Linked DNA regions of Homo sapiens: regions 1 and 2 are each linked to region 3. The links come from fine-mapping of genetic effects on gene expression. A gene starts in region 3. Each other region holds a variant in brackets. All regions are shown on one strand. Distances are between the middles of the regions. Region 1 holds the start of MIR1260A (microRNA 1260a). Region 2 holds the start of ISM2 (isthmin 2). Region 3 holds the start of SPTLC2 (serine palmitoyltransferase long chain base subunit 2).

Region 1 (8,000 bases), 350 kb before region 3:
CCCATTCCTTGTCCAGCTAGGAATAAAGGGGAAATGGTCCTAGCCTGGCCCCTACACACCCAGGTCCCACAGGCCCCCTCCCCACTGGAATTTCACCAACCAACAAGGGGAAAGTACGCTGTTACAGCATAGCGGTCAGGCCCAGCAGGAGCTTGGCACATGATGGGGAGGTGGCCAGCTCCAGGCCCTGCCCGACCCCATCATGTGTATTTGGTGTATGGGGTGTGGGGGGTCACACCAGAAGCTGGCCTGGGGTCTCTTCTTTGCTGGACACAGCTCCCTGGCCCCTGCCCCCAGCCCCTGCAGCCCCTGCCGGACTGTGGAAGCCACATATGGGAAAAGTCCTGGCAGACAATGTGGCGGGATGACTGGGGGCTTCTCCCTCTGAACCTGGGTCCAGTGTAGCCTGGCTCTGAGAGAAGGTGGTGAGCATGTGGAGAAGGTTCCATAGTCCACTCTTAGGGGAACCAGCAAAGCCTCATGGCAGTTGGCTCCATCTGGACCTCCCATGGTCACTACAGGATGGTGGAGCAGGGGGCATCTTTTAGCCTCCCCCCGCCACCACATCCAGGCCCTCTCAGGCACCTCCTGCCTCAGCCCACACCTGCCTCACCCATTGCCCCCCTCCCCCCACCTACTGCCATCCCACTCCTCTGCCAGCCACTTCCCAGCCGCCCCACCCCACTCCATCCACCAAATCACCTCCTGACTTAATCCTTTCTGGAAGGAGCTGCCGCCCAGGAACCGGTATTGCCTAGAGCCTCCAGGAGGGGCCCTCCTCAGGCCTCCAGTGGCCCCATGCCCACCTGCCTGACCCTCCACTGCCCCTGGAAGCAAAGTGCCTATCAGCAGCGTTGCGTCCTCTGGGGCCCCCGGTCGGGGGGGAGGGGGTGTGGGCTAACCTTGGCCACCACCACAAAAGGAATGTGCCAGAATGCTGAACCTTCTTGTTAATGCTATGACCGTGCCTTGAATAAACAAGTCCTCCCAACCTCTCCTGGCCCCTGCCTCTCTGCCTGTGCATCTGGGCCAGCCTGGCCTTGCTCCGCTGTGCAGTGGAGAGAACTTTCTGGTCCTTGAGCTACCCAGGAAGCCAGCAGGGCAGCCCCGAGGAGCAGCAGAAGTCTCTGGTGAGTGCTGAGCCCCATGAGCAGGCCACTGGGCTAGGCTAGTGGCCAGACTTCAAAACACACAGATTTCAGGTGAGGCCCCAGGAAGAGCGGCAGACAGGGCTCAGGTCTGCAAGAGGATGAGGGTGGGGGACTTGGGGGATGGGGGAGGTGGAGGAGAGGTTGGGTGGAGGAGAGGTTGGCACGAGGGAAGTGTGTGGGGCAGCCAGGTGGGATAAGAAACACCCGTTAGCAAAGGCTGTTATAACTGTGGCAAGGAGACAACAGTTCCCTGCCCTGGCGGACACATCTCAGGGTCAGGAGACTGGTTCTGTCCCTTCCTCCAGCAGCTGCATGACCCAGGCTGGTCACCTCATCCAGACAGTAGGGCTGGGAGGACATGAAGCGGACTGTTCTGCTTCGTGACTGAGCAGAGCAGATTTGAGGGCAGAAGATGGGAATCTTGTGGGTGTGTTGAGTAGGGGGAGACTTCCTCCCGCAGTGCTCCCTATGGGGACAGAGGATGACAGTCTCAGGGTGGCTGCCTAAGGACTCTTTCCTGCATCATCCTCGCTGGGTCCTCTCCGCAAACTTCTACGGTCCATCAGTGGCCACTGACTCAAAGTCTACCAAGGTGTGGGCCTGGGCGTGGGATCAAGACCCGTCCACTTGTCCCCTCTCCCCCTCAAAACAATTATTTTCCAAGTCAAGTCAGCCCTTAAAATCCACAAGGGCTGCTTCGCAGGAGAGAAGCCATGAAGACTCCCTGACTGGACGGGACGGGGCTGCGCCCTGCTGCTGCCTCTCATGGTCCCCTCCCAGGGGCCGGCAGCTCCAGGGTCCCCAGATGGCAGGCCTGGGACACTCTGTGGTTCAGCAGACCTTTCGAGGGCCTTTTATCAGGCAGAGACTGAGAAAGAGACAGAAAAACAAGCCGAAGAGGGAGGGCGGTCTCCCCAAGGATGGAATGTCCTCCAGGGAGGTTAGTGTTGGTCAATCCTCTCTCCACTCAGCAGGCCAGGATGGACCGGAGGCCTGAAGGTGGATTTACCTGGGCTGGGGACGGGACTGGGGCAGGGCAAGAGGGAGCCCCAGGAGGCTGGCTCCACTGGGCTGTGCCCAAGAAAGGATTGGAGCACGTGACCGAGTGCTGCGCAGGGAGGAAGCAGCGGGGCCTGAGAGTGCCCCATGCCTCTGCCCAGAAACCAAGCCTGGGGCTGCACGGGGCCCCGCCAGGGAAGCCTGAGGCAGCTCACTTCTGTCCTGAGGAACCTCCTTGCTGGCCAGATTCCAGGTTTCTAGGTCTGCTCTGTGGAAGGCCTTGCAGAGGCGAGGAGAGCCTGGTCTATGGGGAGACAGGTTCCCAGGCTTTCTGAACAGAGGCTGCTTTCAGAACATCTGACAGTCCCTCGGCCTGGACAAGTGGCAGCCCGGCAGCTCTCAGCCTCAATTCCCAAGGTTCTCCAGCCCAGCTGCAAAGGAGAGTCACTCTCAATGTCCAGGCCCCATCCCTGAAAAACCAAAATTTCTCAGGTGGGGCCCAGTACCCTGTATTTTACAAAAGTCCCCCAGGTGATTCCAGTGTGCAGGGAGGGGTGAGTGGATAAGGAAAACAGTCCCAACCTCAGGCACTGCATGCCCTGGGTGGCCTCAGCATCTCACCATCGCCAGCTTAGAAATGACAACTCCCTAGCTCAGGCACGCTTCTGCCATCTTTATCTTCTTTTGCAATAAGTATGAGTACCATGTGGGCCCGAGGGCCACACACCAGGTGTCAGGGGCACTTCTGGCTACCTTGTCATCTTCAGCAAGGGTTCAAAGACTGTCCCTCTTCCCTCCCCTCCAAACACAGAGCCCAGTGGCTTCCATGACCGCCTGCCCATTTCCGTGCAACAGAACGTGACAAGTGCAGTAAACAAATAGGCCTACATAATGGGGTGTCAGGGAGAGACAAAGCCGGATAGGGGCAAGGGGTGCCTGTAGGTGGGGAGAGGATGCTTTGCACTAGAGAGGCCAGCACAAGCTCTGTGGAGGTGAGACATGAGAGCCAGCAAAGGGTCTGTGGGCACACATGCGGAGCCCAAAGAACCAGGCAGAGTGAGCGAGGGGAGGAGAGGGTGGGGCGAGGTCTGAGTGGGCAACAGGCTGTGCAGGCCACGCTGGGACTCCAAGTTTCACTCATCATCTGAGAAACTATGGGAGGATTCTGGGTAGGAGTATGATCCCCTTATGTGTTTGTTTTCCAGGTTTTTTTGTTGTGGTGGTGGTGGTAAAGTACACATAATCATATTCACCATCTTAACCATTTATGGGTTTTTTGTTTGTTTGTTTTGTTGTTGTTGTTGAGACAGAGTCTTGCTCTGTCACCCAGGCTGGAGTGCAATGGCGTGATCTGGGTGCAGTGCAACCTCCGCCTCCCAGGTTCAAGCAATTCTCCTTCTTCAGCCTCCCAAGTAGCTGGGATTACAGGCATATGCCATCATCATTTTTGTATTTTTTAGTAGAGATGGGGTTTCACCATATTGGCCAGGCTGGTCTCGAACTCCTGACCTCAAGCAATCCGCCCACCTTGGCCTCCCAAAGTGCTAGGATTATAGGCGTGAGCCACCGCGCCCGGCCACCATCTTAACCATTTGTAACTGTCCTGTTCAGTGGCATGAAATACATTCGTAATGTGCAACCATTACCACCAGCCATCCTCCACAACTCTTTATCTTGCAAAACTGAGACTGTATACCCATAATCAATAATTCCTCATTCCCTCCTCCCCTTAGCCCCTGGCCACCACCCATGTAACTCTTATGTGCTGAAATGGTCACTGTCACCAGGGTAGGACAAGTAGAAGCAGAAAGCCCAGCTGGGGCCAGGTGTGGTGGTGCACACCTGTAATCCCAGCATTTTGGGAGGCTGAGGTGAGAGGATTACTTGGGGCCAGGGGCTTGAGACCAGCCTGGGCAACAAAGCAAGACCCTATCTCCACAAAAATTTTAAAAATTAGCTGGGCATGGTGGCATGCACCTGGAGTCCCAACTACTCGGGAGACTGAGGCAGGAGGATTCCTTGAACCCAGGATTTCAAGGCTGCAGTGAGCAATGATCATGCCACCACACTTCAGCCTGGGCAACAGAGTGAGATCCTGTCTAAAAAAAAAAAAAAAAAAAGCCCAGTTGGGACTGTGTCAGAGGCATTCAGGAGAGAGAATATGGTAGCTTGCACCAGGATAGGGAGTGAATAAAGAAGCAGTTAAACTTGGAACAGAGGTTGAGGATTCATGGATGATTAGATGTGGGGTCTGAGGGAAAGCAGGAACGCAAGGATGACTCCCAGATCTTC[A/G]GCATGAACAACTCAGCACACTCTGGTTTGAGGTGGAGAAAGCTGGGAAGAAAAAGGCCAAGGGAAACCCCAAGAGTTCCATCTTGAGTGTGTTCTGGTTAAGATGCTATGTGGGGATGTCAAGAAGGTGGCTAGATACAGGAGTCGGGCTGGAGATGTCATCAGCACCTGGGTGGTGATTAAAGCATGGGACTGGCTGAGACTTTGATGGGAGCAGGTGCAGGTGAGGAGGTCTGAGGGCTGAGCCAGCACAAAGAGATGGGAGGAGAACCGGCAAGGAAAACCAGGAGGGACTCAAAAAGGAAGGAGGGTGTCCCCAGCTCTAACCACGCTTGGCAGTAAATGCGGTGCATAGAGGAATAAGTCAAAAGATGCCACGAAGCAGCTTCAGCCAAGTGGAGAATGCTGAACAGGCCATTAGACAAATGACCCACTTCTCCCACACAGCAATGGTGAGGGGAAATGGCAAGAGGGGCCAGGCCAAAGTGAAAGAGTGAAGAGACACAATCAAATGCGAAGTGTGCATCCTGAGTTGAACAAACCAACTGCAGAGAGACGTCTGGGAAATCTACACGTGGATGAATGTGGGCCATCAGGGAATTTGAATTAGGTGATGATGAGAAGATACCGTTCATCTTGTTAGATGTATTGATGGCGTGGCTTCATATGTGAAATAAAGTGCCAGCTAGAAATTCATATGGAAGAATTTACAGGTAAAAGAACATGAAGTCTTGGATTTGCTTTAAAACTCTCCAGCAAAAACAAAGAAACAAAAACAAAAATGGGAGGGGGGTGTGGTTGGGGGAAGAGGTGCATGGAGATTCCCTCATCTCTTGATTCTTGTGTATGTTAACATTTTTCCATAATAAAAAGTGTAAAAATAAAGGCATGACCAACTTTTTCGAGTGCTGCTGAGCAGGAGAGGAAGATAAGGACTAAGATGTGACTCTACATCTGGCAAGATGAGGGTGGTTGGTGACCTTGACTGTAGTAGATTGAAAGTGGGGGCAAAGCCTGGTTGAAGCAGGTTCCCATCCTCCCATAAGAAGTGAGGAGATGAAAACAGCAAGGAAAGACTGCTCTTTCGAAGGGTTTTGCTATCAAAGGAAGAAAAGAACCAAAGGGGTAGCTGGAGAGGAAAGGAAGTGAGGGGTTGTTCTTTGTATAGGAGGGGAGATGTGGGCTGATAGAGGAGGGATGCAGGAGAGAGGGCTGAGCCCTTGAGCAGAGGAGGAGGTAAGGGATACTCTCCCCTGATACAGACGTGCGTGCATACACGCACACGTGCACACACACATGCATACACACGCGTGCACACACACCAGTGCATGCCCATGCACACACGCACTCACACCTAAGTAGAAGAGTGGCTTTCAAAAAAGGTGAAAGCATCCATGCTTAGGATGACTCAGACACAGGTCAGAGGAGGGCATTAGACCTTTCCAAAGCCAGGCCACCTAGAGAGCTGTGGGCCAGACATGGACACCTGAGCCTGACCCATTAATAGGTCACACAGCAGATGAGGCCCTCACTCACTGCAGCCTGTAGGGCTCCAGAAAATGCTCTGGGCACCACAGCGGCCAAGGCGTTCCTAACATGCTGCAGACCCAGTGCCTGCAGTCACATAGCCTGGCAGGCCTGGCATCTGAGCTTAAAGAAAATGAGGCCCCATCTGGGAGCTGGCAAGGCCCCGTGGGCATCTGCTACATTCAGTCTTGGCTGAGAAACTGGAAGCCCAGGGCGAGGACAGCCAGCCCAGGCACAGGCCTTGCAGCCATGCGTGGGCTTCGGGCCCGCCGCCGAGGCTGGAACACATGGAGGTAACCCCAAACCTGCTCCAATCATGCCTACTCAACACAGCTTCTCTTCCCCACGTCCCTGGCTGGCTTTCTAGCCCACAGCCTGTGGGGTCCCAAGCCCCCGACCAATGACCTGCTTCAGACCATGGATCAGTGCGGGTATGGGTTTAACTAACCCCAAAATGTGTAATGGCATAAACACAAGAGAAGTTTGTCTCTTTCATATAAAATTCAAAATGGGTGATTCTGATTAATAGGCACCTTCCTCCAAGCAGCGATTCAGGGTCAGGACTCCTTTCACCTGTGGCTCTGCCATGTTCAACACGTGGCCCTCATGGTCTCTGTGAGGTCTGTATCACACCAGCAGAAGGATGACAGAGCATGGAGGAGCATGCAGGAGTTTTGGGGGACCAGGCCTCGGAGTGGCACACACATCTGCACGGTCCAGCGGCCAGAGCCCAGTCACATGCCCCACCTAATTGCAAGGGTGGCTGCATGACATCCAGCTGTGTGCCCAGGAGGAAGAAGAGCTGGTTTGTGGTCTGCCAGCCAGTTTGGGCCACAGACCCCACAGATGTCTGCCACTGGCTTCCCAGAGCTTCCTCCCAGGCCCCTCCCTCCTGTTCCACCCACTCCAGCCTTGGCCTCCCTGACTCCATCCTCCCATCCTGTCCTGAGATCCACTGCCCTGCAGCTTCATCTGGCACAGGCCAAGACCCAAGAAAAGATCAGGCCCGAGGGTCAGAGAGGCACACAGAACCAGTTTATTTCTCATGAATTTATAGGACCACAGTCAGCACAGAGCAAATGGTACAAGTGCAGATGGCTGGGGTGAGGGCGGGGGCCTCTGCTGCTGCCTTCTCTTCTCTCCAGCTGCCTGAGTACTGGCACACAGCGGGCAGTGAATCTGAGGAGCTGTGGCCTCACAGTCGCTGCAGGCTGAGCCAGAAAGGAGGGCCAGGGGAGGTAAGACTCACTCCTGCAGGAGCGGGTTGGTGATGAAGGGCTGGGGGAACTCGGGTCTCTCTGGGATGAAGTCACCCCTCCTTCCTGGCCGGTCCCCAGCCCCTCCCCACCTGGCCAGCTAGCTGGGTTCCTGCAGCAGCGGAATAGTCAGGGAGTTCCCAGCAGAAGTGCTGAATGAGGGAAAGGGAATGCCGCCAAAGGAAACCGACTCTGTCAGGGCATCTGCACAGCCCGCGAGACTCAAATGAGACCCATTGAGACCCAGGTCCCCCTTCCCTTCCCTGGCAGTTCTGATTCTGCTCCCACTGCCTGGGATTCCACCAAGAAGGCTAAAGCTGCTCTTTCTCTTTATTTGTGAAAAGCAAGCCATCTTGGGGCAGGAAAGCAGTGAAGGGACTGGGCAGGCAGGACAGAAGGCGCTGGAAGCTCAGCCATCTCACCCCCGCCTTGGCCTGCACTCACCTGAAGAAGCAGGACAGACAGAAGAGCCCCATCCTCTCCCACCTCCATACCTTTCCAGCTCATCCCACCTCTGCCACCAAAACACTCATCGCGGGGTCAGAGGGAGTGCCAAAAAAGGTAAAAAGAAACGCAAGAAAGAGGCTACTGGGGATGAGGGGACACCCAGAAGCCCCTTCCTGGAGGAAAAGCCACTCCTTCTGCAGCTGGACTCTAGGATACTGAGACCCAGCCCTGCCCCATCACCTCTCCAGTGTGGCCAAGGGGACAAGGACCAAGATGCAGGGAAGCTTGGGGAGCCTGGGCTACAACAGATACAGGCCAACAGACAGAC
Region 2 (10,716 bases), 120 kb before region 3:
CATGCCCAGCTAATTTTTTGTATTTTTAATAGAGATGGGGTTTCACCGTGTTAGCCAGGATGGTCTCAATCTCCTGACTTCGTGATCCGCCCTCCTCGGCCTCCCAAAGTGCTGGGATTACAGGCGTGAGCCACCACGCCCGGCTAATTTTTTGTATTTTTAGTAGAGATGGGGTTTCACCATGTTAGCCAGGATGGTCTCAATCTCTTGACTTCGTGATCCGCCCGCCTCGGCCTCCCAAAGTGCTGGGATTACAGGCGTGAGCCACTGCACCCGGCCAAGAAGCCCAACATTTTCATTCTGCACTGGGCCCCACAAAAAATGTGGCCAGTTGGCTTTCCCAGGTAAAGGCAATAAAAAAAGAAAGAAAAAGAACGGAGCCAGTCTTGCCGATCACCCTATATGTACAGACTCACTGGATTCTCACAACAACACTTTAGGTAGGTGTGAGCATCATCTTCACTTCATAGACAATGCAGCCAAGGATCAGAGAGGTAACGTAACTTGCCTGGAGTCACACAGCTAGGGGCTGGCAGAGTGGGATTTGATGTCAGTGGTATGGCTGGAGTTTGTGCTCTTAAGCCTTGTGCTTTGCTAACTCCAGGCAGTGGCTGCACCTTCTGGTTTGCCGCCTGCTGCTCTGCGGTGCTGAATGTGCTGGATGAACAAAACACTATACAGGATGTTCAACTCTCCACGTCCATCCTTCCCTTTGATCCTCGTAACAACCTGAGACTGAGATCGGAGAGGCTGGAGACTTGCCTGAGGCCTCTGGGCAGCCAAGCTTCCAGGCCTCATTCCTGTCCTTCTCTCTCTCCCTCCCTGGGGGCTTTTCCAACCCTTTAGAGACTGAATGGTCTGGAGGGATAAGGAAGGCCATAGCTGAGGTCCAGGAAGGTGGCCAGCTGCAGGAGAAGGCTAGCAGGTGAGGCCACAGGCTTGGCACCACACAGACCTAGGTTCTAGTTCTCCCCTGGCACTCACTCACTGATTGGGCTAGAAAGACCCCACAACCAGATAAAATCAGCCTTTAGGAAATACATCCTTCTCATTGCCACCCACCTGGCAGGTGAGACCTTGCAAATCTCCGGCAATCCAGCCCCTGCTTCCAGGCAACTGGCTGGACAATGGACCGGGACTGAAGTGCTGGGGGGGCACCCCCACCATGTTCATGACACTGCCTCAGGTTTCTCAGGGACCCCAGGCTCCTTCCTCTGCCCTTTGTTCTGTCTCAGCCTATACCCTCAACAAGCGCTTCTTTCATGGCCATTTAACCCCTGCTGCGGCAGCACAAACCACCCCCATCCCGCTCCAGGTGGGACAGTCTTTGCAGACTGGAAGAACAGTCCTCTCTCAGGTCTCCTCTGTTTATTTATTTATTTTTAAATAGAGATAGGGTCTCACTCTGCAGCTTAGGCTGGAGTGCAGTGGCATGACCTCGGCTCACCGCAACCTCTGCCTCCCGGGCTCAAGTGATTCTCCTGCCTTAGCCTCCCAAGTAGCTGGGATTACAGGTGGCTGCCACCATGCCCGGCTAATTTTTTTGGTATTTTTAGTAGAGACAGGGTTTCACCATGTTGGCTAGACTGGTCTCCAACTCCTAACCTCAGGTGATCCACCCGCCCTGGCTTCCCAAAGTGCTGGAATTACAGGCATGGGCCACCGCGTCTGGTCTTTTTTTTTTTTTTTTTTTTTTTGAGATGGAATCTCACTCTGTCACCCAGGCTGGGGTGCAGAGGCACAATCTCGGCTCACTGCAACCTCACCTCCTGGGTTCAAGCGATTCTCATGCCTCAGCCTCCCGAGTAGCTGGGATTACAGGCCCCTGCCACTAAGCCCTGCTAATTTTTGTATTTTTAGTAGAGACGGGGTTTCACCATGTTGGCCAGGCTGGTCTTGAACTCCTGACCTCAGGGGATCCGCCTGCCTCAGCCTCCCAAAGTGCTAGGATTACAGGCGTGAGCCACCGCCCAGCCCCCCACCTTTTTTTTTTTTTAAATAAAGACAGAGTCTCACTCTGTAGTCCAGGCTGGAGTGCACTGGTGCAATCACAGCTCACAGGAGCTGTGAACTCCTGGCCTCAATCCTCCCACCTTGGCCTTCCAAAGTGCTGGAATTACAGGCATGAGCCACCACACCCAGCCTCTCTTGCCTAATTCTAACCCCCTCAACCCCTTTGTGGCACCAAGTCCCCAGCTCTTCTTTCTCCCATGCCAAGGTCTTCCCTTGCCTGCCAGGGAGGTGGTGGGTGCCAGGTTTAGGTGCCCAGGGGCTCTGGAATTAAGCAAAACTGAGTGGGGATCCTGGCTCACCACATACTAACCTTGGGTTAGTTACTGGGCCCGCTGTCAGTTTTCTCATCCCTAAAATGATAATAAGACAAGGAACACACATGGCGGCTGTTTGAGTGGTGTTCTCATCCTAACTAGAACAGAAAATACCCAAGACAGAGCTGGGTCACTCTTTGCCTGTCCAGCACTCAACAAACTGGCCCCAGCCTTTTTTTTTTTTTTTTTTTTCAAGACAGGGTCTTGCTCTGTTGCCCAGGATGGAGTACAGTAGTGTGTTCACAGCTCAGAGCAGCCTCGAACTCCTCGTGATCCTCCCACCCACCCTCCAAGTAGCTAGCACTATAGGCATGCACTACCCATGCCTGGCTTGGCCCAGCCTCTTTTATTTAATTAATTTATTTATTTGAAGACAGGATCGGCCAGACATGGTGGCTCGCGCCTGTAATCCCAGAACTTTGGGAGGCTGAAGCAGACAGATCTTCTGAGGTCGGGAGTTCGAGACCAGCCTGACCAACATAGCTACTAAAAATACAAAATTAGCCGGGCATGGTGGAACATGCCTGTAGTCCCAGCTACTCAGGAAGGCTGAGGCAGGAGAATCGCTTGAGCCTGGGAGGCAGAGGTTGCAGTGAGCCAAGATTGTGCCATTGCTCTCCAGCCTGGGCAACAAGAGCGAAACTTCATCTCAAAAAAAGAAAAAAAAAAGACAGGGTCTCATTCTGTCACCCAGGCTGGAGTGCAGTGGTGCAATCAATCACAGCTCACTGTAGCCTCAAACTCCTAGGCTTAAGCAATTCTCCCACTTCAGCCCCCAGTAGCTGGGATTACAGGTGCATGCCATCAAGCTTGGCTAATTTTTGTATTTTTAGTAGAGACAGGGTTTCTCCATGTTGCCCAGGCTGATCTTGAACTCCTGAGCTCAAGTGATCCACCTGCCTTGGCTTCCCAAAGTGCTGGGATTACAGGTATGAGCCACCATGCCTGGCCCACAACCTGTTTTTATGACGATGTCACCATCCATGTGTCTGGTGCTTTTTCACCCAGCACTGCATCTGACAGAATGGGTTCTTATTTTACTGTGGGAGTAAACTGAGGCTCAGCAACAGGCCTGCCCAGAGAAGCAGGGGCCATATTTTGTTCACAAGGCTAATTATTTATTATTATTTTTTTTGAGAGGGAGTCTTGCTCTGTCACCCAGGCTGGAGTGCAGTGGCACGATCTCAGCACACTGCAACCTCTGCCTCCTTAGTTCAAGCAATTCTCCTGCCTCAGCCTCCCAAGTAGCTGGGATTATAGGCGCCCACCACCACGCCTGGCTAATTTTTGTATTTTTAGTGGAGATGGGGTGTCTCCATGTTGGCCAGGCTGGTCTCAAACTCCTGACCTCAAGTGATCCACCTGCCTCGGCCTCCCAAAGTGCCGGGATTATAGGCGTGAGCCACTGCGGCCAGCCGAATGATTCTTTTCTTTTCTTTTTTTCTGAGATGGAGTCTCGCTCTGTCGCTCAGGCTGGAATGCAGTGGCGCGATCTTGGCTCACTGCAAGCTCGGTCTCCCGGGTTCACGCCGTTCTCCTGCCTCAGCCTCCCGAGTAGCTGGGAGTACAGGTGCTTGCTACCATGCCCAGCTAATTTTTTTTTTTTGTATTTTTAGTAGAGATGGGGTTTCACCGTGTTAGCCAGGATGGTCTTGATCTCCTGATCTTGTGATCCGCCCGCCTCGGCCTCCCAAAGTGCTGGGATTACAGGCGTGAGCCACCGTTCCCGGCCCTGTGATTCTTTTCAAGACTTCAGATGAGCAGACTAGAACATGACATGCAAAGATGTACCATAAGGTCCCAGACCTGGCTCCTGGCTAGGCTTAACTTTTCTGTGCCTCCATTTTTCATCTGGAAAATGGAGATCATGCCCATGTCAAAGTGGTGTAACAATGAAATATTCTCATGTTAAGTAATTCATATGGACTCTGTAAGGCCCAGAAAATGCTCACTTCCCTTTCAGCAACCTTTACTTTTAGATTCAGGGGTTTGATGTTCTTTAGCTTCTTCATTAAGGTCTTTGGGCTGGTCAGTTATTTCTTTTTTATTTTTCAATTTTTTTTAATTTTTGAGATGGAGACTCACTCTGTCTCCCAGGCTGGAGTGCAGTGGCACAATCTCGGCTCACTATGACCTCTGCCTCCTAGGTTCAAGCAATTCTTCTGCCTCAGCCTCCCAATAAGCTGGGACCACAGGTGCCCACAACCATGCCCGGCTAATTTTTGTATTTTTAGTAGAGATGGGGTTTCACCAGGTTGGCCAGGCTGGTCTTGAACTCCTGACCTCAAGTGATCCACCCTCCTCAGCCTCCCAAAGTGCTGAGATTACAGGTGTGAGCCACTGCACCCAGCCTGGTCAGTTATTTGTGACACGCCACCCAAGTCCCTAGAATAGCAATCTGCATTCTCTCAACATGACTCCTTAAACTAACACCTTTGCCATAGACAGCTTTAACACAAATCATGAAGACTCATGGAACGATGTCAGAGCTGGACAGAACCATAAAGATGACTTAGGCTCTCTCAGCTCTCTTTTTTCATTTTATTTATTTATTTTTGAGACAGGGTCTCGCTTTGTCACCCAGGTTGGAGTGCAGTGGCGCGATCTCAGCTCACTGCAACTCTTGCCTCCTGGGCTCAGGAGATCCTCCCACCTCAGCCTCCAGAGTAGCTGAGACTACGGGGGGCGCACCATCACGCTCAGCTAATTTTTGTATTTTTTGGGGGGTAGAGATGGGTTTTCGCCATGTTGCTCAGGCTGGTCTTGAACTCCTGGGCTCAAGCAATTCTCCCACCTTGGCCTCCCAAAGTGCTGGGATTACAGGTGTGAGCCACCACGCAGGCCCCTCTTTTTAAATGTGAGGAAATCATCCGAGGTGAGTCACACATGCATTAATGACCCACTGGGACCAGAACTCCAAGGCCTAGACTCTAAGCTCTGCTTTTTCATTGTGGCACTAATTTGTTTTCACATGTTTTTGATGACTCTGCCAGGCTTTGTACGGGAGCTGAGGATATGATTTTGGCTCTGAAATAACTCATCCTCTAGGGTGTTCTTGTTAGGGGAAGATTTGGCAAACATGCTAAAAATAATTACAATACAAAGCAGTAAGTACTAAAATAGAAAGTATTCATGCCAAGTGAGCAGAAACAATGCCAATTTAGTTAATTTTATTATCACTGTCATCTCCATGTAGGAGGAGGGACTGGCGAGAGGCCTCATCTGTCTACAACAGTCATTCTCCACTACGGGCAGTGGGGATAGGGTGTCCCACAGGAAGCATGTGGAGTGTCTGGGCCTCGTGAGGCGGCAAGTGCTACAGGCGCCTAGTGGGTAGAGGCCAGGAATGCTGCTAAACGTTCTATGAAGCATAAGACAACAGCCCCTACCACAAAGAATTATATGCCCCAAAATGACGAGGGTGCCGAGGCTGAGAAGAGCCAGTCTAAAGGATGCATTCTCAATAGGGGCAATAACTAGATCTTGTGAGGGACCAAAAAGTCTTAAGATATTACAATGGTTTGTGACATTCCAAAGGGCTATAATACATAGACAGTGTATCTATGGTATTAAAATGTCATGGGGAGGTCGGGCGTGGTGGCTGACACCTGTAAGCCCAGTACTTTGGGAGGCCAAGGCAGATGGATCACTTGAGGTCAGGAGTTTGAGACCAGCCTGGTCAACATGACGAAACCCCATCTCTACTAAAAAAATACAAAAATTAGCTGGGCGTGGTGGCAGGCATCTGTAATCCCAGCTACTCTTGAGGCTGAGGCAGGAGAATCGCTTGAACTTGGAAGGTGGAGGATGCAGTGAGCCGAGATTGAGCAAGACTCCATGCCAAAAAAAAAAAAAAAAATTCAGCCGGGCATGGTGGCTCACGCCTGTAATCCCAGCACTTTGGGAGGCTGAGGTGGGCAGGTCACCTGAGGTCGGGAGTTCAAGACCAGCCTGACCAACATGCAGAAACCCCATCTCTACTAAAAATACAAAATTAGCTGGGTGTGGTGGCGCATGCCTGTAATCCTAGCTACTCGGGAGGCAGAGGCAGGAGAATCGCTTGAACCCAGGAGGCGGAGGTTGTGGTGAGCCAAGATCACGCCATTGCACTCCAGTCT[G/C]GGCAACAAGAGCAAAACTCCGTCTCCGGGAAAAAAAATAGCCGGGCGTGGCGGCTCACACCTGTAATCCCAGCACTTAGGGAGGCCTAGGCAGGTGGATCATAAGGTCAGGAGTTCGAGACCAGCCAGTTCGAGACCAGCCTGGCCAACATGGTGAAACCCTGTCTTGACTAAAAATACAAAAATTAGCCGGGCGTGGTGGCGTGAGCCTGTGATCCCAGCTACTGGGGAGGCTAAGGCAGGAGAATTGCTTGAACCCGAGAGGCGGAGGTTGCAGTGAGCCAAGATTGTGCCACCGCATTCCAGCCTGGGTGACAGAGTGAGACTCCATCTCAGGAAAAAAAAAAAAAAAAAAAAAAAAAAAAAAAAAAAAATTCATGGGGAGTGGGGACAGGAAAAAAACCTAAAAGACTCCTTAAGGGGGCAGAAAAAAAGGTAGCAAAACTGGTCTACAGACACATCCTCAAGTGCAGCCAGTCTCCCCATTCCTTCCCACGGCCTTTGGAGGGTTTCAGCAGTCTGGACAAGTTCTGGCTCTCACTCTCTCACTCACTCACTCACAATCTCCCACACCCTGCATGCCTATATGGACCCTCAGTGTCGTCATCTCAAAAATGGGAAGAATGGCTGGGTGCAGTGGCTCACACCTGTAATCCCAGCACTTTGGGAGGCCGAGGCAGGTGGATCATGAGGTCAGGAGCTCAAGACCGGCCTGGCCAAGATGGTGAAACCCTGTCTCTACTAAAAATACAAAAATTAGCCAGGCGCGGTGGCAGGCGCCTGTTATCCCAGCTACTTGGGAGGCTGAGGCAGGAGAATAGCTTGAACTCGGGTGGCAGAAGTTGCAGTGAGCCAAGATCGTGCCACTGCACTCCAGCCTGGGCAACACAATGAGGCTCTGTCTCAAAAAAAAAAAAAAAAAAAAAGGAAGAAGAAGAATGGCTGGGCACCATGGCTCATGCCTGTAATACTGGCACTATGGGAGGCTGAGGCAGGAGGATTGCTTGAGGTCAGAAGTTCAAGACCAGCCTGGGACACACAGTGAGACCCCCCCATCTCTACAAAATAAAAAATAAAAAAAATTAGCCAGGTGTGGTGGTGCATGCCTGCGCTCCCAGGTACCCAGGAGGCTGAGGCTGGAGGATCGATTGAGTCCGGGAGGTTGAGGCTACAGTGAGCTATCATCACACCACCGCACTCCAGCCTGGGTGACAGAGAGAGATCCTGTCCCAAAAATAAAATAAAAGAGAGGGAGAAAGAAAAAGTAGGAAGGAAGGAGGGAGGGAGGGAGGGAGGGAGGGAGGGAGGGAAGGAAGGAAGGAAGGAAGGAAGGAAGGAAGGAAGGAAGGAAGGAAGGAAGGAAGGAAGGAAAAACGGCAAGATGGGAAGAGCTATTCGGGCCTCCTACAGCTTAGTACATGGAAGGACCCAGGACCCAAGACCTAAGACCACCTGCCACATAGGACTGCTCCTGCATACCCTAATACAAGTCTGGCTGTCTTTGTCCCCATGGGAATGAACGTCCGCTGCATTCCAGGGGGCAATAAGCTGGACTGTAGACCCCTCAGTGACTGGAAGACACAGGGTTTGACAGACCATGGCTTCTCTCCATGGCCAACACCACTCTTCCATCTCATTCCTGTTTTATACCCCAATGCCCACCCACAGGCCACGAGGACAGAGCCAGTCTCAGGCTGGCCACCCCTGCCGGCGGCTGGAGAGCCCCACTGTGCCTCCGCTTGTCTCATGGAAGGGGCTCACCTGACCGTTTGAACCTCAGCGGCCCTGGCCCGCCACTCCGCAAAGCGCCAGATTCCTCGCACCGGCGGGACTCCTCTCCGAGCTAGCGCGCACCTGGAAAGGGGGCTGCAGGCGAGGTCCGCTCAGGGCGAGGAAGCCCGGCCACCGTGGAGTGTCGGCCACCTCACTCCGCACAGAAGTCAAACTTGTCACCCGGCTGGTCCGCGGCAGCCCGGCTCGCGGTCACGCGCGAGGAGTGGAAGCCCCGAAGTCCGGCGCACCTGGGCAACGCCCGGTGTCCGGGAGCTTCCGGCCGGCCCCGGCCCCTCTCTCCATCGGGGGGTCGCTGCCTGTGTGTGTCCCGGTCCCGCTCCCCGCACGGCTGGAGCCGGCGGGCTGGGGAGGTGGGACCGACAGCGCGCTCCGCAGCCCGGTGCCGCCGCCACTCACCTCTGCGAGCCTCGTGAGGCTCCCAGGCCGTGGTCCGCGGAGCCGCGGCTTCTTCACGGGGAGCCCTAGCGCCGCCTCCAGCAGCGCCGCCAGCAGCAGCACGCAGAGGAGGAGCCCGGCTCGGTCGCGGAGCGCACGCATCGTCTCGGTTCCGAGGCTGCTCTGCCTGCACCTCTGCACGCGGCCGCGAACCCAGTCGCGCCCCGCCTCGCCTCCTCCGGGGGCGGGACCCGGCGATCCTGAGGGGCGCGCGGGGCACGGGGCCGCGCGGGGCGGGGGCGCGCAGCTCGCACAGCCTCTCTGGCCCCGGCTCCTCGCGTGGGCGCCCGCACAGCTCTAGGGTCCGCGCACCTGGACGTCCCCCACCCTCCTCCGAGGGGCCCCTCGGCGCTCCCCGACCCGTCTTGACCCTGTGGGCGGCTCTCTTTGATCTGGCCGCCTCCCCGCCCTCAGTCCCCGCCGCTGTCGCCGTCGCAGCCCCCAGCGAATTCCTGTTCGCGGGAAGCTGCGGCCCGGCGCGCTCCGGCCCTGCGCTGCGACTCCTGCGGGGCCCTGAGGGTCCGACGCCACCTCTGCCCTCCCCGACCGCGCTCCAACTGCGACCTGGACCGGCGGTGCCGCGCGGGCGAGGGAGGCGCAGCCCGACGGGAGAGTGGCGCGAGTCTTCGGATGCCGGGCAGATGTTTGGTTATGCCTCGAGGAAGGTTTGCTGGGGAGGAAGCCTAGAAGTAACTCCCCCAGGGCTCTTCCCAGTCTACTGCCGGAGGTGGAGACCAGAGCAGAGGCACAAGCCAGCACCTGCCATTCTGCACCCAGTGTCCTCGGAATGTTCTCAGAGCACTTTTAAAAACCGGAGAGTCGGCCGGTGGCTCACGCCTGTAATCCCAGCAGTTTGGGAGGCCGAGGCAGGAAGATCACTTGAGGTCAGGAGTTGAGACCAGCCTGGCCAACAAGGTGAAACCCCGTCTCTACTAAAAATACAAAAATTAGCCGGGCGTGGCAGCGCGCACCCGTAGTCCCAGCGGGTGGGAGCCCCGAGGTCCGGCGCACCTGGCCCACACACAGGTGGGAGAATCGCTTGCACCTGGGAGGCAGAGGCTGCAGTGAGCCGAGATTGCACTATTGCACTCCAACCTAGGCGACAGAGTGCGACCCTGTCTCAGAAAACAAAACAGGAGAAAGTTGAGACTCAGATGTGAGGATAAAGTCCCAGAAGGACAGCCGGGAGTCTGGTCGTCGCCTAGTTGTATCCTGGGTGAAACAGTGAAACTGCCCACTTCATCCAGTGGGACCCTTGGTGCAGGGATCCTCACGTAGGCCACGAGGGTCACCAAGATGGCCTGCCTCTGAGCAACCGACACAAAACCTTAGCTTGTGGCAAAGATCAGGAACTCTTGAGAGGCAGTGCCAATCTGGATGGGGCAGCTTGGGAATGTGAACGCAGTGACACCAGGTAGGGGGAGGGGTTGGGACAGGTCGGTGAGGAGCAGTCACAAGGCACTGGGGACATGCCCACCCAGGGGTCATAGCAGGGCGCACAAAGGATGACTCAAGTTTCAGGGCAGGGTTGGTGGATCCCCAGGGGTGGTAGAGAGGATGAAGAGCAAGCCCAGCTACTGGTGTAAACTGCTGGGTCTGGGTCAAGTTAGAGTAAGACTGTGGGGGGACTGTGTGCTTTTCTGGAACTACTCCTATTCCCAGGGGCACAGCTGCAGGGTTTTGAATGGTGCATCACAGGGATGACAACCTGGGTCTGGATTCGGCCATGGGGACTGGAATCTTTCACCATTTACCAAGTAGGTGATATTATTGGACAAATTATTTGACGTCTTCGTGCTCTTGTCATCTGTAAAAGTGTGGGGGCCCGGGAGCAGGAGAGGTTACCCCTCTCACCTGGGCACCAAGTGTGAGAAGTGTGAGTAAATGAGAAGTAAATGTGAAGTAAATGTGAGTAAATGAGAAGTAAATGTGAGTAAATGAGAAGCCAGGTTTCCATGTTGAGAATTTGTATTAGAATGAACTATATGAAGTTGCCATGTTTTGTTCAAAAGGTCGAATATTGGCAATTTCATATGGTGCAA
Region 3 (10,716 bases):
CAAACTTAAGATAAATTTTCTAACAGTAAATGGGTCAAGAGCAAAGGACTTACTTTTTTATCGGTCACAAATTGTGAATTATATTACAGAAGCTTCTCAGAAACTACCCAGAAGGGAACTGACTTTGAGTCCACAAACCATTTATTTAATCAAGTATGGCACACCCACTCAGAATGCAAACAGTGCCTCTACCCATCCCTCTGAATTGCCTATTCTACCAATAAACACTGCTTCTTTCTTCCAAAAACTGAATCTAATTAAATCAACCAATTAACTGTCTTGCTCAAAGCGGTGCAAATTTCTATGGCACATGGGCAAACCCTAAAAAGTGGGCAAGTCTGACTTTTCTGAACATCCTAGTTCTAAAATACTATCTTAAGAACATAGCTGCTTACACATTTCCCAAGAATTCCTGTTAAAGAAAATTCCTGAGTATCTCAAATAACTCTGGAATTCTTCAGATGCAGCTATGTAAGAATCAAGATATGCTTCCCCTTAGAGTGAAAACTGAAATGAAAATCTTGTCCTCCAAGTTGTAAATTACATTATTTCTGAAAAGCCTTCAGGTATCTGAGGTATCTTATCAGGATCTGCTAAATCTAAATAGATATATGACTATTCTAACTATTTCTACTGTTCTAGCCTCATAACTATCGTCTCCTTTTCCTTAACTATCACATATAAACCCCCAGTTACTGTTTCTCCCTCAGTGGAAACAAAAGCTAGTAGCTATTTAGTAAACCAGCTTTATTAGTTATTTATTTGCCTCCTCCTAAGAAGCAAGACTAACACTTTGTTCTTTCTACTTTGCTTATTATTTAACATAAGAACACAACTTTTGCCCCAATTCCTTGAGATAGAATTTTTTATTCTGTAAGCCAGAGAGCTCTCATCCTTCTAATATCTCATTAAAACTACACCCAAAGGGAAAAAAGTTAGGGTCAAAACTGTCTCAAAGGTAGATAACTTTTTTTCTTTCACACTTATTAACTAACTCAGGAAAGTAAAAGGAAAACCTAAATCTCAAAACTTCTATAAAGAAATGGAAGCTCTTTTAAAAAGAGCTGTTAACGTGAAGTTTTAAAAACAAACACACAAACAAACTACTATATTTCAGGTGCAACCAAAACATGGCATTTATTTCATCAAATGTTAAATCCACAGGAAGAAATTTGGTAATTAAGATCATGGAATAATAATCCAATTTGCTATAGAGAAAAACTTGCTGCAAATCCCCTGGAGATCTTTAAAAACAGTACAGAATTTTCTATCAAGACTGATTTTAATAAACTCCTACAAAGAGATAAAGGACTGAATTAAATAAACTCCCAAAGGTTCTTTCCAATGCTAATGTAAAAGTTTCCCTCGGGCAAATTGCCACACCTTACCTCAAATAAAGGTTTGTGCTCCTCCCACTCATCTGAATAGCAGAGAGGAAAAATTACTGCTCTATTGTTCAACTGTTACTATTGTGAAAACTGTGTGTCTACTGTCATCACTAAACAGCAATGTGTGATTGTTTCATAACTCCTTAACACAGCATCTAGCTCATCAAATTCTAAACCCAAATCCAAGAGTTGTTCTTTTACTATACACATTCATTCATCTCTTCAAGCACAGAAACATACTCTTGAGAGTGTAAAGTGATCCTAGACGTTTCTGACTTCTCTCCTGTTCATTAAAAGACATGGTGGGAGATGTGAGGAAAAGAATTTACATCTCAACAATGTTATACTCTAAATTCATATTTTAGTAAAAGCATGACACACAGCTGTATGCGTATTTTTGATGGCACAGTTGGCAACATTTCCCCCCCAGAAAGAGGGGAAAGATAGGTAGAGGTTGGAGCACAAGCACATCGCTTTAATTAAAAATGAAAACAACTTTTAAAAAATGTTAAGATATTGTATTGCTCTCATGTAGTTACCAAGATCTCTCTTTTGTATAAGAAAGAAAAATATTCACAGACAATATTCCTCCATCTGAGAGTGTAGAAAGCTCCAGATCTGAAGTCTGTATTAAAAATACTGGTGAGAAGTAGTTTTCTAGAAGGGATACTGCAGCCCTCACAGCATTCCAACAGACCGTTCTTCCAAATGCCACCAATGTGCCTTGAGTGAAACTTTTACAAAACATGTCCCCAAAAGTCAACCAAATGTTATTCATACAGATTTTAAAATGTCATGTTAGTACCTTGATATTTCTTCACCTTATTAGTTGGCAAGCTCTGAAGAAATATCATTCTATAAATGCTAAATTGTTAGAGATTATGGGAGAAAGGTCCTTGATTTCCTACTAAATCTGAACATAACTCATAGGGATTGAAAGAAGCATTTGAACACAAAGCAACGCTGAAGTGTGAACACCTTTCTCTTGACTTCCTTTTTCATTTTAAAAAATCATACCGGCCAGGTGCAGTGGCTCACACCCGTAATCCCAGCACTCTGGGAGGCCGAGGCAGGCGGATCACGAGGTCAGGAAATCAAGACCATCCTGGCTAACACAGTGAAACCCCGTATCTACTAAAAATACAAAAAATTAGCCGGGCGTGGTGGCGGGTGCCTGTAGGCCCAGCTACTTGGGAGGCTGAGGCAGGAGAATGGCGTGAACCTGGGAGGTAGAGCTTGCAGTGAGCCGAGATCGCGCCACTGCACTCCAGCCTGGGCGACAGAGCGAGACTCCATCTCAAAAAAAACCAAAAAAACAAAAAAAATCATACCTCGGCCTGGTGCGCCTGTAATCCCAGCACTTTTGGAGGCCAAGGCAGGCCAATCACCTGAGGTCAGGAGTTCGAGACCAACCTGGCCAACATGGTGAAACCCCATCTCTAATAAAAATACAAAATTTAGCCGGGCGTGATGACGGGCGCCTGTAATCCCAGCTACTCGGGAGGCTGGGGCAGGAGAATCGCTTGAACCCAGGGGGTGGAGGCTGCAGTGAGCCGAGATCGCGCCATTGCACTCCAGCCTGGGTGACAAGAGCAAAACTGTCTGAAAAAAAAAAACAAAAACAAAAACAAAAAAAAAATCATACCTCAATGAAATTCACCTGCAAATGTATTTTCTAACTCCTACCCGTTAAATTTCCCTATTACATTCTATACCACAACAATTTTGTCTTATAAGTCGTTTACATTGCTAGGAAAACGACAAACTATTCCACTGCTTATAATGAGCTGACTGTTATCACTTCCTCCCTCACACAATTATTTCTTTAAAAGTGAAAACAAATCTTTTGATCTGTGTATTACTTCGCTTTGACACCTTACAACTTCAGGGGAGGTCAAGTCTGCTTTACTTATTTTTCCCCTCAACTCAGTCTCAATATCTCAACATGACCTGGAAAAATGCTTTATTTTCTGCTTCGCAGCAAACAGTAACAGACCTATCCATCATAACTACTCATCTGGGGAGTAGTTATGTTAAAGCCAAATTAAGATCACCATCCTATCAAACTGCAACAGTCACACTCCCGCTAAAGGGAAACAGAGTACTTTCTAAGCGTTCCTTAATATCTGTACAAGACTTAAACGTATTAAAGTCAACTGCAAAATTATCGCAACACTCTCTTCCAGGAACACCGATCTTGCATCTTTTTAACCAGCTCATCTTTAAAAACACATTTCAACAGAATATCTGTCAGTCCAGACCACTGTAAGGTTGATAATAAGCATTGTCTTGAATTTAGAACTTTTCAAAATATTTTAGAACTGCCTGAACTTGGTTGATGATTCAGCATGGTTAATTAGTATAGAGTCATCGCAAGTCACCACCAGGCTAAACAATCCCCTTGTGTGATAGCACTCGTGTTCAGGAAAGGGTCGAAGGGGCCACCTAATCCAACCTGGAGCCTGGGGTAGAGTCTCACCACCGGCAGAGTTAAGAGAATGATGCTTTCGAGGGACCAGCTTGGATTCCCTGCCAGATCTATGGACCAATGTCCTGGTTGGGGACTGAACGTGGTAGTCCAGAATGTGGTTGGGAGAGGCTGGGTGTGTTTCCATCTGACACCACCGCCTAATTTTCTTTGCTTCTTAAGGACCCCATGGGTGGTTTTCTTTGGACGACTGCAGGACTTTAAAAGGAAGCAATAACCTCAGGGGTTTGAGAAGGGACCCTCCGGAGCCCTTGGGCGGCTCCCACTGGAGTCCGAAGGGCCCCTCATCGCTTCCCCTGGGGACAGCACACACTTCTGGCAGAATGGGGCAGAGAAAAGTACCCGGAGCTCTGAGCAGAACCCAGAGCTCCGGGAGTAAGACCTCCAGGCGCGGAGAGGTGGGGAGCCCCCGAGCCGTCCTTGAGCCTCCAGGCTCGTGGAGGTCGGGCCAGCGGCCGGACACTGCCGCCCACACCTGCGAACGGCGCCCGCCCCGCGGATTGCCCAGCGGATGGCCCGGAGACCTCGCCCCGCCCGGCCGCCCCTCCGCCAGTCCACACCGCCACCCCGGCCCCGCCGCGCGGGCCCCTCGTACCTGGCCGGCGGCGGCTGCGGCTGCGGCTGCAGCGCTGCTCCTCACGTACCCGTTCCGTACTTCCCCGTTCGCCACGCAGCCATTCGCCCGCACCGTGCGGCGGCAGCAGCAGCCTCCGGGCTCCGGCCGCATCTTCCTGGCAGCACCAGGCGCAAGGCAGGCTCTGTAGGCGGTGGCAGCGGCGGCGGCTGCTCCAAGTCCCGCTCCGCACCCCACCCACCTCCCCGAAACCGGAAATGGCTGCAGCGCCGCCGCCAATTCCCGGGCGGGCCTTCACAGAGGGCGGGGCCCTCTCCGCAGAGGACCGGTCTCGGCCAAGGCCACGCAGCGAAGGGAAAAAGCGGCGGGGACCTGCCGAGAGGGATGTGGTCCTGAGGACCGCTGACCAATCTGGAAGAGAAGGAGGCGGACCCCATGCTGCTGCCTGGCCAATCACGGACGAGAGCAAAGCGCCTCGCCGGTGGAGAGGGGGCTTCTCTAGAGGGACTCCAGGGCCTGGCACCTGATTGGAGGCCGCATCCAGGTCCGGGGTAGGGCTTGCCTGTTTAATGGTCCAGACCGAGGAGGAGGCGGAGCCCAGGGAAAAGTAGCCAATTAGAGTGTGAGGAAATAAAAGGGGCTGAGCCGAAGTCTCTAGAGCGGGTTCCCAGGTTCTCCAGGACAGGTGGCGCCCTCTTTGCCCTTGCCTCGTGGGAAGTTTTGGAGTTTATGTCCTAGCCCAAGACAGGCAGCTCGCTTATTTAATTAGCTGATTCCTCTGTGAGTGTTTATAGAATAGATTTTTTGACAATCTCTCATCATTCTTCAATATGCGCCACACATTCACTATTTCTGAATTATTATAAGTAATAATTCAGATGCCTTTTCACGTGCCCTTCACATTTGCCCTTGGCAGGGTTTTCTATACAGTCTCCTTTAAATTAAGTCTTTCCTTCAAAGTTAGAAAACCTGGTCTAATTCCAACTCTGCCAATAACTGGAAGCTAAAACTTGAGCACTGTGTTTAACCACTTTAGAAGCCAAATTCTTTAAAATGGAGTTAATACTTCCTGCTTCATAGACTTACAGCAAGAATTATATCATTAACCCATTATGCACCTCTTATAATACTAGGCTTATAGTAGGAGTATAATAAATATTATTTTCTCACCCTTTTAGTTCCATCTTCCCATGGGGTTAGAAAGCAAGGAAATTGATCTACATTACAATTAGAGACTTTCTGTTATCCATAAAGAATTTAGTATCATAATTGAGAGTATGGACTCTGGAGTCGGTCTGGGTTTTAAATCCTAGCTGCGCCACTTACTAGCTGAGTGACCTCTATGTGTCTTCATCTGTTCAGTGGGGACAATAATAGTTGTCGTGAAGATTGAATAAGTTTATGTATGTAATGTATTTTGTACAGGACCTAGCAATTAGTAAGCATTCATTAAGTGTTGGTTACTAGTAATTGCTAAATGCACCTATGAGAATCCGTGCATTCTTTCCCCACCCTGCAGGAGCTTTAGAAAGGAGGTCCACAAGGTATTGGTTTTGCATGACTTAGGAGCTGAATAATCTAACAGAAGGTGGGATCATTCATCCCACACATCCTATTTGAGTTGACAAACACTATTGATCCCAAAGTGAATATACATCTGTATGTATAAGGCTAAAAAGGAAACATGTGGCTGTGCTTCATGGAGCTTACATTTCAGTGAGAGACAAGATATACACATAGAAAGAAAACAATAGTTAAAGACCAACCTAAGGCTGGAGAGATTAGGCAACAGGAGTTCTGATGAGGGAAGCTGAATGGCAGTGATGAGTCTAACCAGGTAGAAAGTTTTCAGGGCAGGAATCTGGATGGAAGCAGGGCTAAGGGATTTAACTGAAGCTTAGGGAGTGAGCTGAATGACTCTGGAGAAGGCTTGCGAGGAAGATGTGCAATGAGACAGATCTTGGAAGATGAGCGGGACTTGGAGAGCTGGAACTGAGAAGGATGGGGAGGGTGTTCTGAGGAAACCTTCAGAAACTCGGGTGTCGAGTCTAGAAAGATCAAAGCCTCACCTGCAGGCTAAGAGGAGTAAAGGAGTCTGGCTAGATTTGAGGAGTCCTGTTAGCCGATCCCTCCTCAGGGGGCTGGCCCCTTGTCTTGTTCCGCCACTTACTCACTATGTATAGTCTTGGACAAGTAATGCAAACTCAGCCCTGGTTTCCTCACTCATCTTACAAAGTGTGTACCTGTACTACTTACCTTACAGGCTTCTGTGAGCATCAGTGATATACAGATGATCTGATTACTTCACATGCCATTGCTAAATCACAAAAATGATGCTGCAGTAGGCAGTAGGAAACACCCCAGACTCCATGTAAACAGGAAAACAACTCCTTCCAGAAACATAAGCCGCTTAATCATCATTTTACAGTGTTCATATGCAAAGTTCTGTGCTAGGCACCAGGAAGACAACCCTTCTCTTCCTTCAAGATTGCTCAAACCACTTCAACTGTGAAGCCTGTTTTGAACCCCAACCTCCCCACAAAATTAGTTGCTTTCTCCTCTGTGAGCTTTATACACACCTGTGTAAGCATGTATCACACTGCTTTGAGATTCTTTGAGAGGGAGGTTACACAATGCTTAGAAGCAAGAGCTCTGCAGTCAGATATACCATAATTGAAGACCGGTTTCAGCACCTAGAATCCTTATGATTTAGGCAAAGCTGCCTAACCTCTCTATGACTCAGGTACTTCTTCTGTAAAATGGGATATACCTCATAGAGTTGGAGAATTAACAAAAGCATTTAGTGCCAAGACCTGTTACATAATATTAAATGAGTGTTGGTAATTATTCATTGGATAAATGAAGTACTTATTAAGTGAATGAATGATTGATTGAATACATTTATACTTACAATTAGGCAACAAGCTTGGTGAGTTGAGGGGATTGTCTAATTTATCTTTGGGTTCCCAGTACCTACCACGTGTCTGTCACATAGCAAATGCTCAATAAATGTTTGATGAATGCATAAATGGATAAATGAATTAAAATTTGGCCTTGGCTGGACATGGTGGCTCACACTTGTAATCTCAGCACTTTGGGAGGCCGAGGTAGATGGATCACGTGAGGCCAGGAGTTCGAGACCAGCCTGACCAACATGGTGAAACCCCGTCTCTCCAGAAAATACAAAAATTAGCCGGGCGTAGTGGCACATGCCTGTAATCTCAGCTACTTGGAGGCTGAGGCACAAGACTTGCTTGAACTTGGGAGGCAGAGGTTACAGTGAGCCGAGATTGTGCCACTGCACTTTAGCCTGGGTGACAGAGAGAGACTCTGTCTCAAAAAAAAAAAAAAAAAAAAATTTTGGCCTTGTCTCCAAGGAACCTTCTATCACATGGAGACTGTGTTAATTGAGGTTCTTTGGTTGCAGATAACATAAGCCAATTTTAAAAAACTTATTCAAGAAAGGTAAATTTATTGGAACTCTCCTGAAGACAGGGAAGTGTTGGCACTCAGGAAAATCCTAAACCTCAGCAGCAGAAAATTATAGACCTTCCTTCCTCCTAACCAAACCACTTCTGGTGCTTAGCTCTCAACAACCTACAACTTTCATATTCATGAGGTCAAACTTCTACACTCTCAGGAAAAAGAAATCTGATTGGCCTAGCTTATGGTGAGGATGGGTAAATCTGACCAATCGCAATGGCCAGAGCACAAGGTCAAACTGCTGGAGGGGAGGAATCAGTTATAGACAAGGAAGAATCATAGCAGAGAAGGGAGGAACAACCCTAACAGTGTTCACTACAAGGAGATAGAACCCGGGAGTGAAAAGGACAAATAGCAATAGCTTAGAATGGATGTTAAAGAAGGAGGCTGGCGGGTGCAGTGGCTCACACCTATAATCCCAGCACTTTGGGAGGCCGAGGGGGTCGGATCACCTGAGGTCAGGAGCTCGAGACCAGACTGGCGAACATGGTGAAACCCCCATCTCTACTAAAAATACAAAAATATTATCCAGCGTGGTGGCGGGCGGGAGGCTGAGGCAGGAGAATCGCTTGAACCCGCGAGGTGGAGGTTGCAGTGAGCCGAGATCGCGCCATTGCACTCCAGCCTGGGCAATAAGAGCAAAACTCCGTCTCAAAAACAAAAACAAACAAACAAAAAACCCAAACAAGTAGCCAAGCCTCAGGCAATCACAGAAGCCATACTTCAACCACTCAACAGGCAGCCAACTGTTCAGTGTTCAAATAAGGCAAATGCCAAGCTATAACCATTCCAACTGTTTCTGTGTCTCACTTCTGTTTTCTGTATGTTGCTTTCCTTTTTCTATTCATAAATCCTGTCTCACCATGTGACAGTGCTGGAATCTCTCTGAACCTTCTGATTCTGGATGGGGGCTGCCCAATTTGAGGATCATTATTTGCTCAGTTAAATTCTGTTAAATTTAATTTATTTCTTTTTTTCTTTTCTTTTCTTTTCTTTTCTTTTTTTTTTTTTTTTAGGATGGAGTTTCGCTCCTGTTGCCCAGGCTGAAGCGCAATGGCACGATGTCGGCTCACTGCAACCTCTGCCTCTTGGGTTCAAGTGATTCTTCTGCCTTAGCCTCCCAAGTAGCTGGGATTACAGGCTCCCGCCGCCACACCTGGCTAATTTTTGTATTTTTAATAGAGACAGGGTTTCACCACATTGGCCAGGCTGGTCTTGAACTCCTGATTTCAGGCGATCCACCCACCTAGGCCTCCTAAAGTGCTAGGATTACAGGCGCGAGCCACTGTGCCCGGTCTAAATTTAATTTCTTTGAATTTTTTCTCTTAGCAACACCCCTGCCAAAATAAATGACTTCTAACTACCCCTTCCATTGTTGGGTCACTTGGTCAAGAGTCAAATACTGGAGAGAATATCTGCTTGTTTGAGTTTACGTCGCACTGGTCCTAAAAGGTGCAAACAAAAGGAAAAAGTGTCCTTCACCTTTCATGATGGGAGGTGCTTACCAAGACACACCCTCTTAAGAAGAGTACGTTAAATGAGAAGAGATGATTTCCCAAAGGGAAATGGGGGACTTAATAGAAAAAGGGAATGGACACTGGGCAGGCAGAAATGGCCAATGTCCTTTATATCAGTCAAGGCTGCAGATGAATCACAAGATAGAGTTGTGTATTGTGGTAGGCACATGTAATCTTAGCTCTTCAGGAGGCTGAGGCAGGAGGAACACATGAGCGCAGGAGTTCAAGACCAGCCTGGGCAGCATAGCAAGACCCCATCTCAAGAAAAAAGAAAAAAAAGAAGAACCACAAGATGGAATGGAAAGGGCCCTTCAGAAGTAATCTGCTTTTGCACAAAAACCAGAGATAGATGATGCAGAGGTATTATTTGAACCTGACTCTGAGAGCATCATTTGGTCTTCCCTTTTCTTTTTCTTTCTTTCTTTTCTTTTTTTTCTTTTTTGAGATGGAACTTCACTCTGTTGCCCAGGCTGGAGTGTAGTGGTGTGATCTGAGCTCACTGCAATCTCTGCCTTCTGGGTTTGAGCGATTCTTGTATCTCCCAAGTAGCTGGAATTACAGGTGCATGCTACCATGCCCAGCTAATTTTTGTATTTTTAGTAGAGACGGGGTTTTGCCATCCTGGCCAGGCTGGTCTTGAACTCCTGACCTCAAGTGATCCACCCACCTTGGCTTCCCAAAGTGTTGGGATTACAAACATGAGCCACCATGCCTGGCCTGGTCTTCCCTTTTCAAACTTTTCTTGCTTCATTCATTCATTTATCTATTAGGCCAATCACACAAGTATTTTTTGCTGGCCATCATGTTGGGTACTGCAAATACAATGACAAATAGAAAGAAACATGGTATTTGCACTTGTAGAGCTTTCAGTCTTGATTTACAAGAAATGCGTCTGCTCTTTCCCCTTTCATTATTCCTAATCTAATAGAGTAAGTGAAATAGACTAATTCTCTCCCTGGGTTTCTGATCCTACTTTTGTGGAAAATCTTGGATGCTGTTTTTGGACTATTTTCAGTGGCAATATTTGCATCCACAAAACTGGGCAGGTCCTGGGACAAGAGTTTAGAATTGCATTATGACCCTGAGGCCTGAGCTATTTAAATGAATGTTTGCATGCAAACATGAAGCTTTAAGAGGAATGATGGTTTCTGATTATACACCTCCAGGGTGCCAGCTAAGCACTTAGTAGAGATTTTAATCTGTACCCAACAAAGCGTTTGCAATGGGAGTTCTGCAATAATACAGATGAGTGCTCCAGGAATGGGC

The links.
Region 1: its variant is fine-mapped to the expression of SPTLC2 in whole blood (INTERVAL, PIP above 0.99).
Region 2: its variant is fine-mapped to the expression of SPTLC2 in whole blood (TOPMed, PIP 0.98).

Annotation. Positions count from the first base shown.
Region 1 is chr14:77,258,501-77,266,500 of GRCh38, forward strand. It overlaps TMEM63C (transmembrane protein 63C), which reads left to right. Exons shown (of 24, transcript NM_020431.4): 24 at 1-995. It overlaps NGB (neuroglobin), which reads right to left. Exons shown (of 4, transcript NM_021257.4): 4 at 6,983-8,000. MIR1260A (microRNA 1260a) reads left to right here and starts at 7,718; the gene lies at 7,718-7,790. LOC124903351 (a long non-coding RNA gene) reads left to right here and starts at 1,319. Exons shown (of 2, transcript XR_007064276.1): 1 at 1,319-2,642; 2 at 4,890-5,327. The variant A/G (reference allele first, on the strand shown) is at 4,443.
Region 2 is chr14:77,490,018-77,500,733 of GRCh38, forward strand. It overlaps ISM2 (isthmin 2), which reads right to left and starts at 8,799. Exons shown (of 7, transcript NM_199296.3): 1 at 8,636-8,799. The coding sequence starts at 8,776. RefSeq lists enhancers at 641-1,142, 1,143-1,642, 9,423-9,482 and silencers at 8,283-8,342, 8,383-8,592, 8,863-9,052. The variant G/C (reference allele first, on the strand shown) is at 6,446.
Region 3 is chr14:77,611,977-77,622,692 of GRCh38, forward strand. It overlaps SPTLC2 (serine palmitoyltransferase long chain base subunit 2), which reads right to left and starts at 4,661. Exons shown (of 12, transcript NM_004863.4): 1 at 4,472-4,661. The coding sequence starts at 4,603. RefSeq lists enhancers at 3,918-4,127, 4,456-4,988 and silencers at 4,308-4,507, 4,648-4,697, 5,028-5,087.